2 separate regions of the Homo sapiens genome follow, and region 1 is linked to region 2. The links come from fine-mapping of genetic effects on gene expression. A gene starts in region 2. The other region holds a variant in brackets. All regions are shown on one strand. Distances are from middle to middle.

What was found. PIP is the estimated chance that this variant, and not a neighbour inherited with it, causes the effect. A credible set is the group of variants that fine-mapping cannot tell apart.
Region 1: its variant is the best candidate, but not a certain one, in a credible set for the expression of NIPAL4 in whole blood (TOPMed, PIP 0.89).

Annotation. Positions count from the first base shown.
Region 1 is chr5:157,481,617-157,491,736 of GRCh38, forward strand. It overlaps ADAM19 (ADAM metallopeptidase domain 19), which reads right to left. Exons shown (of 23, transcript NM_033274.5): 18 at 9,999-10,107; 19 at 8,694-8,838; 20 at 7,486-7,570; 21 at 6,649-6,873; 22 at 175-327. Among named protein-coding and RNA genes, the nearest start is that of NIPAL4, 26 kb to the left of the region's middle. RefSeq lists an enhancer at 4,845-5,345 and a silencer at 5,013-5,102. The variant C/T (reference allele first, on the strand shown) is at 5,913.
Region 2 is chr5:157,456,751-157,464,750 of GRCh38, forward strand. It overlaps NIPAL4 (NIPA like domain containing 4), which reads left to right and starts at 3,463. Exons shown (of 6, transcript NM_001099287.2): 1 at 3,463-3,607; 2 at 6,344-6,583. The coding sequence starts at 3,571. NIPAL4-DT (NIPAL4 divergent transcript) reads right to left here and starts at 3,350. Exons shown (of 3, transcript NR_136205.1): 1 at 3,258-3,350. RefSeq lists a silencer at 3,357-3,516.

The DNA of each region.
Region 1 (10,120 bases), 26 kb after region 2:
ACTCCACAGTCAAGCGGGCACCAAGAAACATGAATGTTTTGCCCTTGGCTTTTGTTCTGGAAGTTCAGTCCAGACCACAAGAAGCATGAATTGCTTTGTTTTCTCAACTCTACACCTGCCCCCCTGGAGCCCTCTGGTACCAGCTTTCACCTTGAGGGCTTCCCGTGGACTCACCTTTGGGGCAAGTGCTGCCAGAGGCCGGGACTGCTGAGGGCCAGCACCAGGGGGCCGCAGTGGGGATGCACCTCCTGGCCTGGGGAGGCTCCTGCGGCCTGGCACTGGGTTTGCCGGGAGTGCCTTCTGGGGCGGCCGAGGCCTGGAGAAGTCCTGGAGAGAAAGCAATAAGCCTCACTTGAAGGCCAGAGGCCTGTTTGAAAGAAAATATCCCTGATATCTTACAGGTTAAAATCAGATAGATAAAAGTTATATACTGTATGGTCCCATTTAGAAAGAAACTGTATGTATAATGTGTTTATATTCTCAAGAGGAAGTCAGGAGAGCAAGCTGGCAGTATCTATTAAAATTACAAATAACCAGTGAAGATGATCTTTTTTTCATATGTTTGTTGGCTGCATAAATGTCTTCTTTTGAGAAGTGTCTGTTCATATCTTTCACCCACTTTTTGATAGGGTTGTTTGATTTTTTCTTGTAAATCTGTTTAAGTTCTTTGTAGATTGGGGATATTAGCCCTCTGTCAGATGGATAGATTGCAAAAATCTTCTCCCATTCTGTAGGTTGCCTGTTCACTCTGATGATAGTTTCTTTTGCTGTGCAGAAGCTCTTTAGTTCAATCAGATCCCATTTGTCAATTTTGGCTTTTGTTGCCATTGCTTTTGGTGTTTTAGTCATGAAGTCTTTGCCCATGCCTATGTCCTGAATGGTATTGCCTAGGTTTTCTTCTAGGGTTTTTATGGTTTTAGGTCTTAGTTTAAGTCTTTAATCCATCTTGAGTTAATTTTTGTATAAGGTGTAAGGAAGGGATCCAGTTTCAGCTTTCTGCATATGGCTAGACAGTTTTCCCAGCACCATTATTAAATAGGGAGGATCTAGAACTAGAAATACCATTTGACCCAGCAATCCCACTACTGGATATATACCCAAAGGATTATAAATCATTCTACTATAAAGACACATGTACACGTATGTTTATTGTGGCACTATTCACAACAGCAAAGACTTGGAACCAACCCAAATGCCCATCAATGATAGACTGAATCAAGAAAATGTGGCACATATACACCATGGAATACTATGCAGCCATAAAAAAGGATGAGTTCATGTCCTTTGCAGGGACATGGATGACGCTGGAAACTATCATTCTCAGCAAAATAACACAAGAACAGAAAACCAAACACCACATGTTCTCACTCATAAGTGGGAGATGAACATGAAATGAGAACACATGGACACAGGGAGGGGAACATTACATACTGGGGCCTGTTGGGTGGTGGGGGGCTAGGGGAGGGATAGCATTAGGAGAAATGCCTAATGTAGATGACGGGTTGATGGGTGCAGTAAACCACCATGGCATGTGTATACCTATGTAACAAATCTGCACATTCTGCACATGTACCCCAGAACTTAAAGTATAATAAAAAAAATTACAAATAACTGTTCTCTGATCTAGTAATTCTACTTCTTCTGACCTATGTTAGAGAACTATTTGCACACGTGCACAAAAATGAAACTGCAAGGTTGTTCCTTGCAGCACTGTTTGTAACAGCAAAGAAACTATAAATAAGCAAAATTTCATCAGCAGAAAAATAACTAAAATTATAAAGTGACAGATGATATAGCACTTAAAAAGAATGAAGTAGGTTGATAGGGGCTGGCGTGGGGAGATGTTCAAGAGTTGTTAGGTGGAACAAACAAGCTGTAGAGGATAGTTGACATAAAATAAGTCAGCACGCTCACCGCCTAATAGAAATGTCTGTAACAGAAAAAAGGAAGGATACAGACCAAAGAGATTACACTGGGATGGGGTGCAAAAGGGGAGGGGTGTGTTCCAGGTGAACATTCCATTTTTTTTTTTTTTGAGATGGAGTCTTGCTCTGTCCCCCAGGCTGGAGTGTAATGGCATGATCTCGGCTTACTGCAACCTCTGCCTCCGGAGTTCAAACGATTCTCTTGCCTCAGCCTCCTGAGTAGTTGGGATTACAGGCACCCACCACCATGCCCAGCTAATTTTTGTATTTTTAGTAGAGACGGGGTTTCGCCATGTTGGTCAGGCCAATCTCGAACTCTGACCTCAGGTGATCTGCCTGCCTTGGCCTCCCAAAGTGCTGGGATTACACGTGTGAGCCACCACGCCCAGCCCTTGAACATTCCTTTTTTTTTTTTTTTAACAAGAGCATGTACGTGTATTGCCTGTTAAGATTAAAACAAAATTTAAACAAAGCAGCAGCTATATTTTGTTCATGTTGGTTGTCCATGTGTGTGGCACATTTCATGGATTCTGTCCTTCCTGTGTTACTATTACCTTCATGTTCTCACCATCTCCACAAGGCTTTGCCCTGACTACCTTATTTAAAATTACAACAGCCCCCACCCTGACATTCCCTGACCTTTTTATCCTAATATACCTCTTCTTTTCTTTTCATATCACTTACTGCCTTACAACATATATAATTTATTTACTTATCCAGTTGATTTTTACTTTGTGTCTCTCCATTCCCCTCTAGAGTGGAAGCAGTGTGGGGTCCGTATCTGTTTGGTTCACTGATACATCTTTGGCTTCCAGAACAGTGCCTAGTATACAGTAGGTGCTCAACACGTATTAGTTGATCCATTGTTTTTTAAGGGGCAAAGAATGACTGTCCCACCCGCAGGCCCCCAAGCTGTTGGGGTTTAAGGGGAAGCCAACTGCATAGAAGGGAGTTCCAGTGCCTGCTCCCCTTGACTTCCTTCCCTTCTCGAGAGGGTCACTACCACGTATTAAAGTGGACAAAAGGCAAGCACATAGAGAGGGCAGGAATAACACAAAGAGCCGAGATTTTCCCCAAGAAGCTTCATGGAATCAGAAACTAAAGCAAATTCTTAAGGCCAAAAAGCCATGTTCTTCAGCTCTATCTAGAAGGACAATACAACCCGCCCCCTTCACCACCACCTTCCCCAGCTCAGAATAGCTGCCAAGTTGCAATGGTTGCTGGAAGCCAGGATAGAGACCTTCTGGGGCAGGTGACAGCTGGGTGCAGATGTCAGGTTGCAACTGGGAAAGGCTGTGCTCCCAAGGGAGCTGTGCAAATGAGCCACTGAGGGGCTGGAGTTTGGGCAGGAGCCTCATCAGCATGTCAGCACTGGGCCTCCCAGGGCAACCAGCCACAGGCCACATCTGCGATGATCCAACTCAGCCCTACCAGGGCCCTCGCCCAGCACTGTTTTCCTTTTTCTAGAGCAGAAACAGTCCCTCAGCTACTCTGGCCCATGCTCCCTTCCACAAGGGATGGCATCTTACTCAATCAGATTGCACAAGCCTGACACGGGGCGTCATCCCCTGCCAAGCAATGGATCTTCAACTCGTTATCTATTTTCTCTTCTGCACATTTCTCATCAGCTTCACTTCATCAGCCCTGCCTACTCCCTGCTCCAAGCTTTTACCATCTTTCTTCAGGACAACCTTTAAATCTTCTAACTAGGACACCCATTTGCTTCTAGAGTGACTTTCATTTTTTAAAACTATTTTAAAAATTCAAATATAATACACACAGAAAAAGGCGAACAAATCATAAATATACAACTAGATGAATTATCACAACGTGAATACACTAAGTAATCCCCATGCAGGTCAAACAGTAGATTAACAGCTTCAGAAGCATCTATGGGCCCCTTGCAGGAACTACACCTCTCTCCTGCCTAAAGATATCCCAAAGAGTGATCAATCCTTGTCAACAGAAAATTGCATCATGTCACCACTGTCCTCTTCCTATGGAATACAGACCAAAGTCCTGACCAAGGCTATGTGGCCTGGGCATAGACGGGCTCCTCCTGGCTTTCCAGCCTCATCTCATAGCTCCTTGGGACCCAAGCACACAAACCTTTAAGTTCCTTCAATCCACAGGGCCCTCTCCCATGACAGAGCCTCCCTACTAGTGGGTCCTGGGACCAGGAAAGCTCCTTCATCACTTGCCCTCACAGCCTGGTTAAGTCCTGTTCCTCCTTCATGTCTCAGCTCAAATGTCACCACCTCAGGGAAACCTTCCTGGATTTCCCAGATTAGGTCAAATCCTCGTTACTCTCTTCTGAGCACCCTGAGCCTCTCCTTCACAGCACATATCACTGTTGCAGTGACACATATCCCAGAGTCACTGCCCCAGCAGAATGTGAGCTCCTGGAGGCAAAGCTGCCATCTGCCTTCCTCGTCATTGCCTGGCCCAGAGTGCAGGTGCATAAGCCGGTTTAGAATAGCAGAACTGAAGAAGTGATGAGGTTTCATCTATCACTTCTCCAGGGGGTCCATGTCCCCCAGCTAGGAGGTGGGGAATCTTTGATGGCAGACTGGAGACTGTGAGTGGCCCCAGGGCAGGAGGCTGTCTCACTCAGCTGGATGAGACCTGGGTTCAAGTCCTAGCTCCTCCACTCACAACTGTGCAATGTCGGGCAAGTCCCTTCAATCCTATGAGGCCTGGCAACCTCCAAGAGAAATGAGGGCTGCAGCAACTCCCTTCTTGGAATGGCTGTGAGGAGGCAGGTGGCAGCCCAATGTCATCACAGCAGCCCCCACTCAGAGCAGCTGCCTCCCACTGTTCGCTTGTAGAGAGACACCCACCTGGGACCCGGGGCCCAGGAGAAGCTGTGCTTGGGGGCTGTGTTTTGGGGTGCCTGCCACTGGCTGGGCAGCTTCCTGCACCCGGGACTCCTGCCAGCAGTCCCAGGGGTGCAGGTGCAGGGTATGCACAGCCTCCACCACTTAACAGACAGCTGGGTCCCCGCTGTCCCTGACACTTCCTGACCTACGGCTCAGCACCTAGGGGTGACAGGGGTGAGGCTGGCCCCGTGTTCTCTGAACATGCCTCTAGTGTGGGTTTTTCAGAACAACAGTCTGAGTGGACTGCTCGCCCGACCCACTCCCTCCTCCCTCTGCTGGCACTCCTGTTCTCCTGTAACCCCAAGTCTCTACACGCCTGCTTTCTCCCTTTCTTTCATCTCTCTGTTAGGGACTGAACTGTGCACTCATCATTTAAAAAAAAAAAATCATATGCTGAAGCCCTAACCCTGAGTACCTCAGAATGTGACCATATTTAGAGATAAGGTCTTTAAAGAGGTGATTAGGATAGAATGAGGCCACCTAATCCAATCTGGTGTCCTCATAAGAAGAGGAGAGTTGGACAGGCAGACACCAGGGAGGCAGAAGTGCATAGGAAAGGCCTCGTGAGAACACAGCAAGAGGGCGGCCACCTGCAAGCCACAGAGAGAGGCTTCAGAAATCAACCCTTCCAGCACCTTGACCTTGGACTCTTAGCCTCTAGAACTGTGAGAAAATAAGTGTCTGTTTTGAAGCCACCCAGTGTGCAGTACTCTGCTATAGCACCCTCAGCACACGAGTACACTCTCCACCTCTCTCTCTCCACTCCTCCCCTCTCTTGCTTTTTTCCTTTCCTCTTTCCTTCTCTCTCCCTGTCAATCTTTCCTCTCTTTCTGCATGGATTTTTCCATCCTACCTCTGCCCCACATAAAAGGAAGGGGAGAGCAGCAGTTTCACAGCAGAGAAACAGAATGGATGCCCTCAGCCTTCCCAAACTGTACCACTGCCACACATCCCAAGGACCCTCCAAAGCCTGCAGCCAACCCCAGAGTCCTTAGGGTCAGAGACAGCTTGGGTTCCATGGAGCCCTCTGGATTACACCCAGAGAAAGCAGTCTCAGTTGAGGGGTCACACCCAAAACACACAGGCCAGTTCCAGAAGGCACCCCACC[C/T]GGCCGCCACCCAGGAAACACCTGTGTCTGCACTGGGGGATCTCCTGCAGAAGGTGTGGTCAGAGCCATCAGAGCACACACACGCAGTGGGAACAGGCTGCTGGGCAGGCTATGCCTCCAAGAGCACCAGGGCTGGTGGGGGAGAGTCTAGACCCCACTCTCACCTCCCAGAGGCACCTGCCCCTTGGGATGGGCAAGGCATCAGGATACATCCCTAAGACTTTCCAATCAGTAGAAGGTACCAATAGGTACAATTTGGTAGGAAGAGTACTATGATGAGAGAAGTACAGTCCCATCAACCTCAGAATTGAGGAATCAGGATAGACTTCCTGGGAGAAGCGGCATCTAGGAGCAGATCTGAGGATGAGCAGGAGGTGGCCCCACCAAGGAGAGAAGGAGCGTATCAGGCAGAACAAGCAGCATTTACAAAGACCTAGCAGGCAGACGAGCATGGGGGAACTGACAGAAGTTAATATGGGGTGGAAGGTGGGTAGTGGCTTGTCATAAAATAGGCCAACCCGGGAGAAAATGCCACATGGTTTAGGAGCTTCTTAGAGAGTCTATTTCCCCACGTTCGTTGCTCTAACCTGCTGTGCGCCCCCGTATTGACTGAATTGCAGAAAAGGCAGTCAGCTCATGACCCCACAAGTTTCACCTTCCCCACCTTTGCCATTACCCATTGAAAGTGGCCTTAAAAGCAATGTTCCCAGCCCAAGGTTGCTGATTATCCACTTACCTGGGAAACGATGCAATTTGGTGCGGGGGGAATTGGCCGGCTTGGAGGAGGCCTCCTGGACGACTCCGTCCTCTCTATTTGAGACCCGGGCCCTGGGGAGTTCCTAGCAGCCCTGCTCAGGTGAGCTGGCAGTGGTGCAGGTGGGGACCCACCACGCAGATAATCTGGAGGGGGCCGGGGAGGAGGCTGGGAGGGCTTCCGCAGGATTTCCGGAGTGTTGATCACCTGTACGCACAAGTCAAGGAACACCTGAGACAAGAAATCACTCAGGGCTGGCCTTGTGTGTCTCTTTGAGATAAACCAGAGCCCAAAGGGAGAACAGACACACCAATCTATTAAACCCCTGAGGATCCCAGAAGTCAGATGCAACCTTTAAAGTCATTAGGGGATGTCAGAACCAAATAACATGTCTCTCCAGCCAATAAAAGGGCTTTTATTACCAATCCCATGGGCCCACAGAGGCTCTTAGAAAAACACAGCATGGCGGCCGGGCATGGTGGCTCATGCCTGTAATCCCAGCATTTTGGGAGGCCGAGGCGGGTGGATCACGAGGTCAGGAGATGGAGACCATCCTGGCTAACACGGTGAAACCCCGTCTCTATTAAAAATACAAAAATTAGCCAGGCATGGTGGTGGGCACCTGTAGTCCCAGCTAATTGGGAGGCTGAGGCAGGAGAATGGCGTGAACCCTGGAGGCGGAGCTTGCAGTGAGCTGAGATGGCGCCACTGTACTCCAGCCTGGGCGACAGGGCAAGACTCCATCTCAAAAAGAAAAATACAGCATGGCCCTGAGGGATAAAGGAAAAGTAGCAAAGTTCAGTGGTGCAAAGCTCTTACCTTTCGCTTGCCCTGGGGCGTCTGCAGCTTGAAAGTTGGGTTGGCATGACCAGTCCCGCTGTTCTGAGAAACCCTGAAGGGACAACTAGAAACAAGAAATGGGGGAGGAAAAGAAAGGGGACGATGTTCAGCAGGGGACAGTGCCTGAGTTCCCTTTGACCCAAGCACGGCCAGCAAGCAGCTAAATCTTTCCCAAGTCTGCTCTGGAGGGAGTGGGATTGGTCTTCTCGAACCACATCTTCCTAAGTAGAAAAACGTGTGGCCAATGGAGAACTCTCAAGGAAACAGAGTTGGCCTTATACAAAGCAGAGCTCTCTCAGCACCTTCTCTTCACCCTTTTAAGACCCTTCCCCTGTGAGGAGACACAAGGGTGTCACGAGCCATCAACCAATCCCCATCAGGCATAGATCCAGAAAGACCTGGGACTTAAAATCCCCTCCAGAACAAGTGTTATTTAATAGGTGACTCAGAGACTGTACATCTTCCATATCCAAAATAATACATCACTTTTCAAATGGGACACCAAAAGCGAGCAGGAGTAGCTATTCTTATACCAGATGAAACAAACTTTAAAGCAACAGTGGTTAAAAAGACAAAGAGGGGGCTGGGCATGGTGGCTCATGCTTGTAATCCCAGCATTTTGGGAGGCCAAAGCGGGCAGATCACCTGAGGTCAAGAGTTCGAGACCAGCCTGGTCAACATGGTGAAACCCCGTCTCTACTAAAAATACAAAAAATTAGCTGGGTATGGTGGCATGCACCTGTAGCCCCAGCTACTCAGGACGCTGAGGCAGGAGAATCGCTTGAACTCAGGAGGCGGAGGCTGCAGTGAGCCAAGATTGCACCACTGCATTCCAGCCTGGGCAACAAGAGTGAAACTCCATCTCAAAAATAAATAAAATAAAATGGGGAATAAATCAACTAGACAAAGGATGGCAAATAGATTTTATTTTATATTTCAACTTGATTTGGTTGGGGATATTCTGCTGAGAAGAACTCAGGAGTGATGACCAGAATCAGTAGAGTACTTACAATAAGATCAACTAGTAATGCCTGTCACAGTCATAGCAGGGGAGAGGGCAGCATGTATCTTGCACTTGTCTTCCCTGAATTAGACCCACTATCACCAACACTTTTGCTAAGTACCATTTATGGAGACCTTTGTGACCCATAAATTGACCCTGAGTCCTCCATTGAACCCTGTCATACCTGAACTGTTGCCTCAGCTTGGAAGGGAGAGCTGAGGGCTTGAGTTGGCCTAGTTTGTTGTTCTGTCTGCAGCAGTAGTACATCAGCATGAGGACCGCCAGCACCAAGATGGCCACCAACACTCCAGCTACCACAGGACCCACACCTTCCAGAAACAGAACCCAAGTGGGAGATTTAGAAGCTGTCTCGGCTACAGCAGATTTCAAAATAGGTATTCGTGCTTCTTCTTCAGGCATTTGATTTGCATTTAATTTGTATTACTTATTTTAACTTACAAATTATAATTAAAAACACACATTATGGGCCGGGCACAGTGGCTCATGCCTGTAATCCCAGCACTTTGGGAGGCCGCGGTCAGCAGATCACAAGGTAAAGAGATCAAGACCATCCTGACCAACATGGTGAAACCTCGTCTCTACTAAAAACACAAAAATTAGCTAGGTGTGGTGGCACATGCCTGTAGTCTCAGCTACTCAGGAGGCTGAGGCAGGAGAATCACTTGAACCCGGGAGGCGGAGGTTGCAGTAAGTCGAGATCACACCACTGCACTCCAGCCTGGGTGACAGAGCAAGACTCCGTCTCAAAAAAAAAAAAAAAACAAAGAAACGAAAAGACTCAGACAGATTTAAGACTAGACATCTCACCCATAATCCATAACTTAACATTTGGTTTCATCAAAACTACCCCAATATTCTCTCAAGTGGTTAATGTAAATATAGAGAACGTATTTGTACTAACAAAACACTACTTTTTATCAGTTTTACATATTGGGGTTTCTTCCTTGAAAGATTTTGGTGCTTTTTTTTTAAAGTTATTTGCTATTTTTTTTAAAAAAAAAACTTTAGAAATCATAGTGCTAGAATCCTTGAGAGATCCACTAAAATACTATAAAATTTTCTGAGTGTCTGGTTCTCCATTTTAACTTGTGTCCATCAGAGGAAATCTAAACCACCATAATGTGTCCCAGGTTCATGATTATTTTTAAGTGCCCAAAGAGAAATAGTCACCGTGTCCCCTAAAAAGAATGGGAACATTCAATGACCTACAGTCTCTCTTACTCTCACTCTACTAAGCGGGCTCCCCCTCCTCAGTAGAAAGGATGGGAGAAGAGAGACTGAACCGTGTCCCCACACCACACTATGAGCAGTCGCTCCTCTCTCTTGGTCTGTCTTTATCCTGATTTCCTCTCTACAAAATCAGGACAATGAAGCTGATTCAATGTGGATGCTCTGCAACATGCCACCTGCCCCTGATGCCCGCTCTTCTCACAAAAGCGGGCAGTGGCCCCAGCAGGCTGGCACTCACTCTCAGGGGGCATAGGCCCACTGTCGATACTGCCCCCGTGGCCCGGTGTGTTGCAGAAGGGCGGGGCCCAGCCCGGCAGGCAGTGGCAGTTCTGGTTGTTGTTACAGACCTGGAGCAAAGAA
Region 2 (8,000 bases):
GGTCTTGAAGCATAGGATAAACTCAATATTGCCCTTAACCCCTGACAAGGAGGCCCCTTCCCTGACCCTAAAATTTAGAGGTTCCACAAATCACAAACACATACAAAAATAAATGCATTAAAGAACATATATGTGCATCTGTCTCTCAGGATCTGGGCTTAGCTCTGGCAACTACAATCTGAAACATCCTCTCTTGTGATTCAAAAAGGCCACTAAGAGAAGCCACTATTTAAAGTGTTCTCAACATACACGCATGTATGCACACACACGCACAATATAACTAAGTGAGGTGATAGATGTATTAATTAGCTTAATCGTCGTTATCATTCACGATGTACACCTATATCAAATCATTATGTTGTACATTTTAAATATATATAACTTTCATTTGTCAGTCATACTTCAATAAAGCGAGGAAGAAAAAAGGTCAGACCAGAGGGAAATACTCCGAATCTCTCACCCTATGTTCTTGGAATAAAAGCAGTCAAGTTTGAATGCAGTGAGGGTTTGAGGACTGTACCACTCCAGGTTCAGTGCTGACTCCGTTTTATAGCACAAGGAGGAGCTGAACAGCAGAAATGCTTAGAGAAGAGAAAGATAAGTTGAATTCTCTTGTCAAATTCTCCCTTGCAGGTAGCATGGATGCATATATTTTTTCATCATGAAGTCTCACTTCCGAATAGGGCCAATCATCTAGTGTCTTGCTGCTCTGTGTTCAAATTCATATAGTCTTGGAGGTGTTCCCCTCTACCTGAACGGTGGTACCACACACCTCCAAAGTTAGAGGCGGGCCTGGGCACACTCACCTGCAGACTTGGATATATTCTGTTGGCAATGGCTATGACTTCTGTCAACTAAAAGAAAATCAAGCTTTTAAGGAATTAAAGTTAGTTTTATTCAGAAGTCTTACTGAGGTTCTGTAATCCCAGCATTTTGGGAGGCCGGGGCAGGTGGAACACCTGAAGTCAGGAGTTTGAGATCAGCCTGGCTAACATGGTGAAACACTGTCTCTACTAAAAATACAAAAATTAGCTGGGCGTGGTGGTGGGCGCCTGTAATCCCAGCTACTCCGGAAGCTGAGGTGGGAGAATCGCTTGAACATGGGAGGCGGAGCTTGCAGTGAGCCGAGGTCGAGCCACTGCACTCCAGCCTGGGCAACAGAGTGAGACTCTGTCTCAAAAAAAAAAAAAAAAAAAAAAGCAGAAGTCTTACTGAGGACTAGAGACTGAAGACAAAGTCTGGGAGGAGTCTTTCAGAGAGGTCCTGTCCCACTGCTCTGAAACAGTGTTTTAGCTCATAGCTGATATACACGTAGCAGAAGTGCAGTATGTGCTCAAACATTACATCAAACTTGCTCAGAAGTTACAGTAAAGCAGAATCACATGAAAGTCTGGGTGCAAGAGTATATCTGGTTATAGATGATAGAGGCATAGTCACTAACCTTGTCAAACATTATCCTATGTGTAGGAATAGGCAAGGTCTAGGGTCATTTATCTTTTAAGAAATATAGTGTCTCAGGCAAAAGTTGTGGGGGCCTTGTGCTGTATCCTGCTTTGTTTTCAAAGCATTTTTCCAGAGAGGTGCACATCATTACAGAATCAAGGGCTTGTGAAATTATGCAGCAAGTAAAATGAGCAAACGTGGCTTGTTACATTTGCTGTGTCTCACATTTCCCTTTCTCTTTTAACCTCTCCCTTCCCCAACCCGATCCCGACCCCTTGGAGAAGGGGCTGTTGCATTTGACAAAGAAATTGATCCTTATGTAGAGTAAGCAACTTGTTTAAAGTCATCCAGCAAATTAGAGGAAGCCCCATGCTGGGAGAACCCATCCTTAGAGGCCCAGCTAGAGGTCCGCAAGTAGACAGTGGAGGGTCGTAGGTAGGAGGACAGGCTTGGGGTCAGAGCAGCTCGGTTTACACCTGGCACCCTCGTTCACTAGCTGTGCAACCTTGGGAGCAAGTGTCTCAGAGTATTTAAAGGACAGTTTTTTCTATTCCTATACAAGATGTTAACATTAAGGGAAGCTGGTGACAGGTATATGGGAACTCTCTATACTATTTTCGTAACTCTTCTATAAGTCTAAAATTATCTCATGATAAAATTTTTAAAAATAACAGTTTCCTCTTATCTGTAGCATGGAAAGAGTAAGGATATCTGTCTCCTAGGAGGCTTCGATGAGACAGTGCCTGGAAAGGGGTTAGCACAGTGTCTGGCCCATGCTGACGACTCCATACATAACAATTCTTAAAAGCTGCCTCCTCCAGGAAGCCGGTGAGCACCACTGGCAGAACCAATCACTGCTTTCTCAGTAGCCCCACACCCTCACTGCCCAGGAGCAGTTTATTTCAGTGTAAAATGCCAGGCGGCTTAATGTGACCACTGACAGCACGAGTTTGATCCTGGCTTTTCTGCTTCTCAGCTGAGATCCCCAGCAAGTTACTTGAGCACTTTGTGCCTCAGTTTCCTTTTGGTAAATAATAAAAGTCTGTACATTATAAGGCGGTCATGAAGATTAAATGAACTGGAATTTTTCAGCACTTAGAACTCTGCCTGGCCTATAGCAAACTCTACATACCTATTTTTATGCTCCAGGTCAGTGGTTTTCTAACTTGCTTTTTACTGTTACCCATAGTAACAAATATGCTTTCCATCACAACGTGTGTATGTGTGTGTGTGTATAAATAATTTTAAAGTGGTAATTTCAAAAACATTGGTCTCTAAGAGATGATCACATTTTGTTTCCCCCATTAAAATATAAGGTACTTGGGGGACAGGGAATAGTCTGACTCATTTTGGTCTCCAATCACTTCATTTCCTTCTTTCATTTAATTTACCAAGCTCCTATTATCTATTCATTAGACATAAATATATATTGAGCATTAACTCACTATGTACCTGTTACCTACCAGCACAGATCAGACCTGGGTTGAATCAATGAACGGGTAAGGCAAGGAAAGGAGGTCGCAGGGCAGAAGGCAGGGAGGAAGGGCAGGAGGGTGAAATGGAAGGAAGGGAGGAAAGGTGGAGGGGAGGAAGGAGAGGGGGAGGGTAGGAGGGCGAGAAGGAAGGAAAAGAAGGAACCCAGGTTCCCAATTGGCAGCAGTACCCACTTCCAACCCCTATGTTGCCACTTCCACCTCGGCAGGAAAGTTGCCCCTTCTCCAGCCATCTAGGTCCCCTGTACTCTTTCCCTGGGGATGGAGCTGGGTGCCGGTGCAGGCATCGGAGGAGCGGTGCCGGGGAACCCGCCTCCTCACCTCTTGCCCCTAGCACGGGGCGGTGACTCCAGAGCTGGGAGCCTGGCAGCGTCCTCACCCCAGGAAGGCATGCGCCCCTCTGCGGGCGGCCCCAGCCCTGGGCCCCCTGCCCCCGGAATTGCCCAAGATGCCGGGTGACTCCTCCCCGGGGACTCTCCCACTCTGGGACGCGTCACTCTCCCCACCCCTGGGTCCGGACCCCGGCGGCTTCTCGCGCGCGAGCCACGCGGGGGACAAGTCGCGGCCACCTGCTCCGGAGCTGGGGAGCCCGGGCGCCGTCCGCCCGCGCGTCGGTTCGTGTGCCCCGGGCCCCATGGAGCTGCGGGTCAGCAACACCAGCTGCGAGAACGGTGCGTACGGCAGGGCTGGGGACCAGGCGGGCTCCGCGCTTCGCGCCCTCCCCTCCTTGCCACCGCTCTCCCTCGCATCCTCTCCTCCCAGGGGGGCCAAAGCTGGGGAGGGGCAGGGCCAGCACGAGGTGGCTCCCACCCAGCTTTGAAGATCTGGGTTCTGGCTGAGACTTCACTTTCATCTTCGCAGCTGGGATGGCTGAGAGGAGTCAGGGAAGGAAAGTATGTCCCCTGGGTTGAGATGGGGGGTTAGTGGGGGGCAGGCATTTTGACGACAGCAGACACCCTGAGAGGTGGTGGGGGCGGGGGGAGGATTCTGTGTTTTTAATGTGTAGTTGCTTCAGGTTTTAGTACCTGCGCAGTTTGGGCTTTCTCTCTGGGTCAATGGGAGGACCATCACAGGACGGTCTTGTCTTTGGAAAAGAAAAAGAACCACAGGAAGGGGTAAAGAAAGACCCCTGACTTCCTATTGCGTTCTGACCATAAAGCAGGTAGTGGACTAGGCCCTTTACCCGCATTATCTCACTGAATCCTTAAAACAACTCTAGAAGGTAGGTAGGTATTATTATTTTACTATCTTGCTATCCCCACTCTAAAGATCCAGAAACTGAGGCTCTGAGCAGCTAATAATTTGCTCAAGGTAATACAGTGAGGAAATGGAATATAGATCCAAGGCTGGTGGACAGTAAAACCTCAACTCCTTCCTTGGTGTGGCTCCACTTTCCTACCTTGTCTTGGAACTGCAGGCTGTGGCATGTCCCTGTTTCTCTAACCTCTTCCCTTCTACAGTGAAGCTTTCAAAGCCAGCCTGTTAGGTGTCTGACTTTGGTTTCCTGAACAAGGCAGGCATTTTCAGCCTCACCTTTTCTCTAGGCCAGAATGTGTTCCCCAGTCCTAGCATATTCTGGAAGAGATAACAGGAATCATCTGGCCCATGCTCAGAATTGGATTACTTTGGCCATCAGCCCTCTGTCTTTTACTTTTCACTGCAGTGGGAGAACTTGACTCAATGGAGGATGCTCAGCCCTTGGGTGTTGCGGGCTTTACTGTGACAGCCAAGTCCATCCACAGAGGGTTCGTTGGCTCCATCTGCTAGAGGTGCACCTTCAGGGAGCAGGGGAAGGGCGTGGGGATGAGTTTGGTCTTCCTCTCAGGAGTCACCTCCCCTAGCCCATGTTCTCCCAGGTTCTGGCTCATTTCCTGGGCTCAGGGAACTCCCCAGATTCAGCTCTTGGGCAAGGAAGCCTGAGCTGGAGAAACAGGAATGAGCAGTGCAGAACAAGTCTGATTAGGGACTGAGATGCCTCTTGTCTCATCTTCCCTTGATTGTGACACGAGTTTTGGAAAGAGAGATATCACACTGCAAAAGACACATGGATGTGCCCCAGTGGGTGCTGGATCCAGATCTTTCACCAGATGTTGGGGTGACTTAAGCAAGCTCTTCCCTTTCTCAGGGCCTCAGTTTCCCCAGAAAAAATAAGAATTTAGACTGCTTTCTAAGGGCTCTTCAAGCTCTGTTATTCATGGGTCTGTGTCGTGGAAGAAAGGTCAACATTGCCTTTAGTCTGTTCCACCAAGATGCCACTCTGCCCTGCAGATGTGCCAGAGCCAGAGTTGCTTGACCATGGACTTTGGGGCCCTTCCAGGCACTGCCTGGGAGTTCTAGGTTGGTGGGAGAAATACTTGGTTGAGGCTTACATCCTTGGCATAGGGACCTGGGCCTTGGTGACACACAGCTTGAAAAAGGCTACCTCCAGAGGTAACAAACTCAGATGCCTACAAAGGCCAAGCACGTGCTAGAAATTACTGAAAGGAGCCAGATAAGACTCTTGGGGAACTGCAGAGAGTATGTCCTATTTTAGGGGGCAACACTGCCCAGCTGCAGCCAGTTGTTGCCTTAGAAGAGGGCCCAATATGGTAAGCAGATCTGATTTTTCACCGTAGCCTCCCATCTGAATTTTCATGGAAAATCTCCCAATTTTTAAATGTTTTCTATTTTAAAATACCTCTTAGGGCCAGGCACGGTGGCTCACGTCTGTAATCTTAGTGCTTTGGGAGGCTGAGGCAGGAGGATAGCTTGAGGCTAGGAGTTCAGACCACCCTCTGCAACATAGCAAGACCCCCATCTCTACACAAAAAAACAAAAACAAAAACAAACAAAAAGCCTCTTAGGAGGCCAGATGCTACCTGCTTTATTGAGGTGTGTGTGATGGTTAAGAGCCTGGGCTTTGGCATCAGATAAGCTTAGAATCTGACACTGGCTTCACTATTCAGTACCCATGTTTTGGCTTTGGGCAGGTTACTAAACTTATCAGAGCTTTGGTTTCTTCAACTAAAAGCCTATAAAAGATTGTTGTGCCTGCTTCCAAGTGGTCATTAGAAACCCTCCTGGAAAACCCCAGAGCAGAGGACCATGTGAGTAGTAGCACTGAAGAATTATTGGCTATTCTTTGCAGTTTCATTGAACTTATGTACTTCTTCTGACTGAGGGTCTGCCCTTGTGCCCAGGTTTGTTATCTGGCACGTGGTGGTACAAATTTGTTGTGGTCATGCAAAGAAAGCCCCTAACTAGCGTAAGCACTCACTGAACATAATTATTTTTAGGTGGAGGCACGGTATATGGGTATAGCCCTGCAGTAGCGGAAGCACAGGGTTTGAAACAGTGGCCAATTCCAATATTTTAAAAGTGTGCAATTGTCCCCAGTGTGACTCTCTCACTGTGGTCTTCCCATCCAGGTTCCCTGCTCCACCTCTACTGCTCCTCCCAAGAAGTCCTGTGCCAGATTGTCAATGACCTCAGCCCTGAGGTGCCCAGCAATGCCACCTTTCACAGCTGGCAGGAAAGAATCAGGCAGAACTATGGCTTCTACATCGGCCTGGGCCTGGCATTCCTGTCTAGCTTCCTCATCGGCAGCAGCGTCATCCTCAAGAAGAAAGGCCTCTTGCGACTCGTGGCCACGGGAGCCACTCGAGCTGGTAGGTTCCTGGGCCAGGAGAGGATAGGGCCCAGGGCAGCTGAGCTCTCACAAGGTCCGGGGCTGTAGTCTAAGAGGATGGCCTCAGCAAGGTACAAAAGGCTCATTGTCAACCCTATCTGGAATCCCACCTGCCAACAGGGTTAGGGTTTAGGGTTATAAAGGAAGGCCTCCAATAGGAGGTCTCAGTTTAGAGAGCAAACAGGATGCCTTCCTTTAGAATCCAATCTTTCCTGAGACCTTCATGATGTGTTTATTAGAGGAGGGAAGGGACAAGTCTCAGGACCAAGAATCAGATATGCATGTCTGGTCTTGGTCTTACTTCCCACCAACGTCATCACAGGCAAGTCACAGCTTCTCTGCAAAATGGGAATAGATACTTCTGCTCAGAACAATGTCAGACGCTGGTGTGCCCTCACTTAGCATCCAATTGAGCTCCCTTCTGGGCTGCCAAAAAATGGTGAACTGTCTGACCCCAAGGGATTTGCTTGTTTGGAAAATAAGATGTTTTTCCGTGAAACAGTGCTTGAGAAAAGGAATCCTGTGCAAAATGACTCATTCATTTAATCACCATTTATCACATGCCTGCTGTATGCCAGGGACAATGCTAGACATGGGGATTCAGTGTCCTCGTGGAACCTTCAGTCAAGTGGAAGAGACAGATGAGTCAATAGGCAGTTGTTTTATCATGTGTTAAGTGCCATCATGGGGAAAACACAGCCTGCTATGGGGGAATATTTTGGAGGGGTGTGTAAAGCCCAGACTTGGGGGATTAGGGGAGGTTTCTCTAGAAGAGATGATCTCTAAACTGAGACCTAGATTATGAGGAGACAGCAAGGTAAAAGGGGAAATAGGGAGACAGTGTTCCAGGCAGAAGGAATAACACGTGCAAAGGCTCAGAGGTGAGAGAACTTGAGTGATACTAGAAATCGAAAGTCATTCAGAATGGCAGGAGCAGGAGGGGTGCATGGTGAGTGAAGGGCCAGCTCATGAAGGGTCTTGTAAATGGAAGTACAGAGGCTGAGTGCAATTGTTAAGTGACTGAAAGGTTTTAGGAAGGCGAGTGACACAGTCTAATTTGCAATTTGAAAAGATCCCTGGTTGCTGGGTGAAGAACGGATTAGGGGACAAGCCTGGAGCCTGGGAAACCAAGTAGGTGAGTGAAAGGACAGAACTTGAGCCCGGGAGACGGAAATGGGAATGGAGACAACTGGTGGATTCCAAAGCTAGTTTTTGAAGGTAGAATTTACCAGCTTTGATACAGACCGGCTTCAAGCAAGGGAGGAGGGGCGGGGGAAGGAGTCAAGGATGACTCATGCTTTTGACTTGAGCAACTGGGGTGATGAAAGTGCTATTTCTTGAGATGAAGAGTGTAGAAGGAGGGACAGGTTTATGGGAAGATGATGCATTCAAGTTTG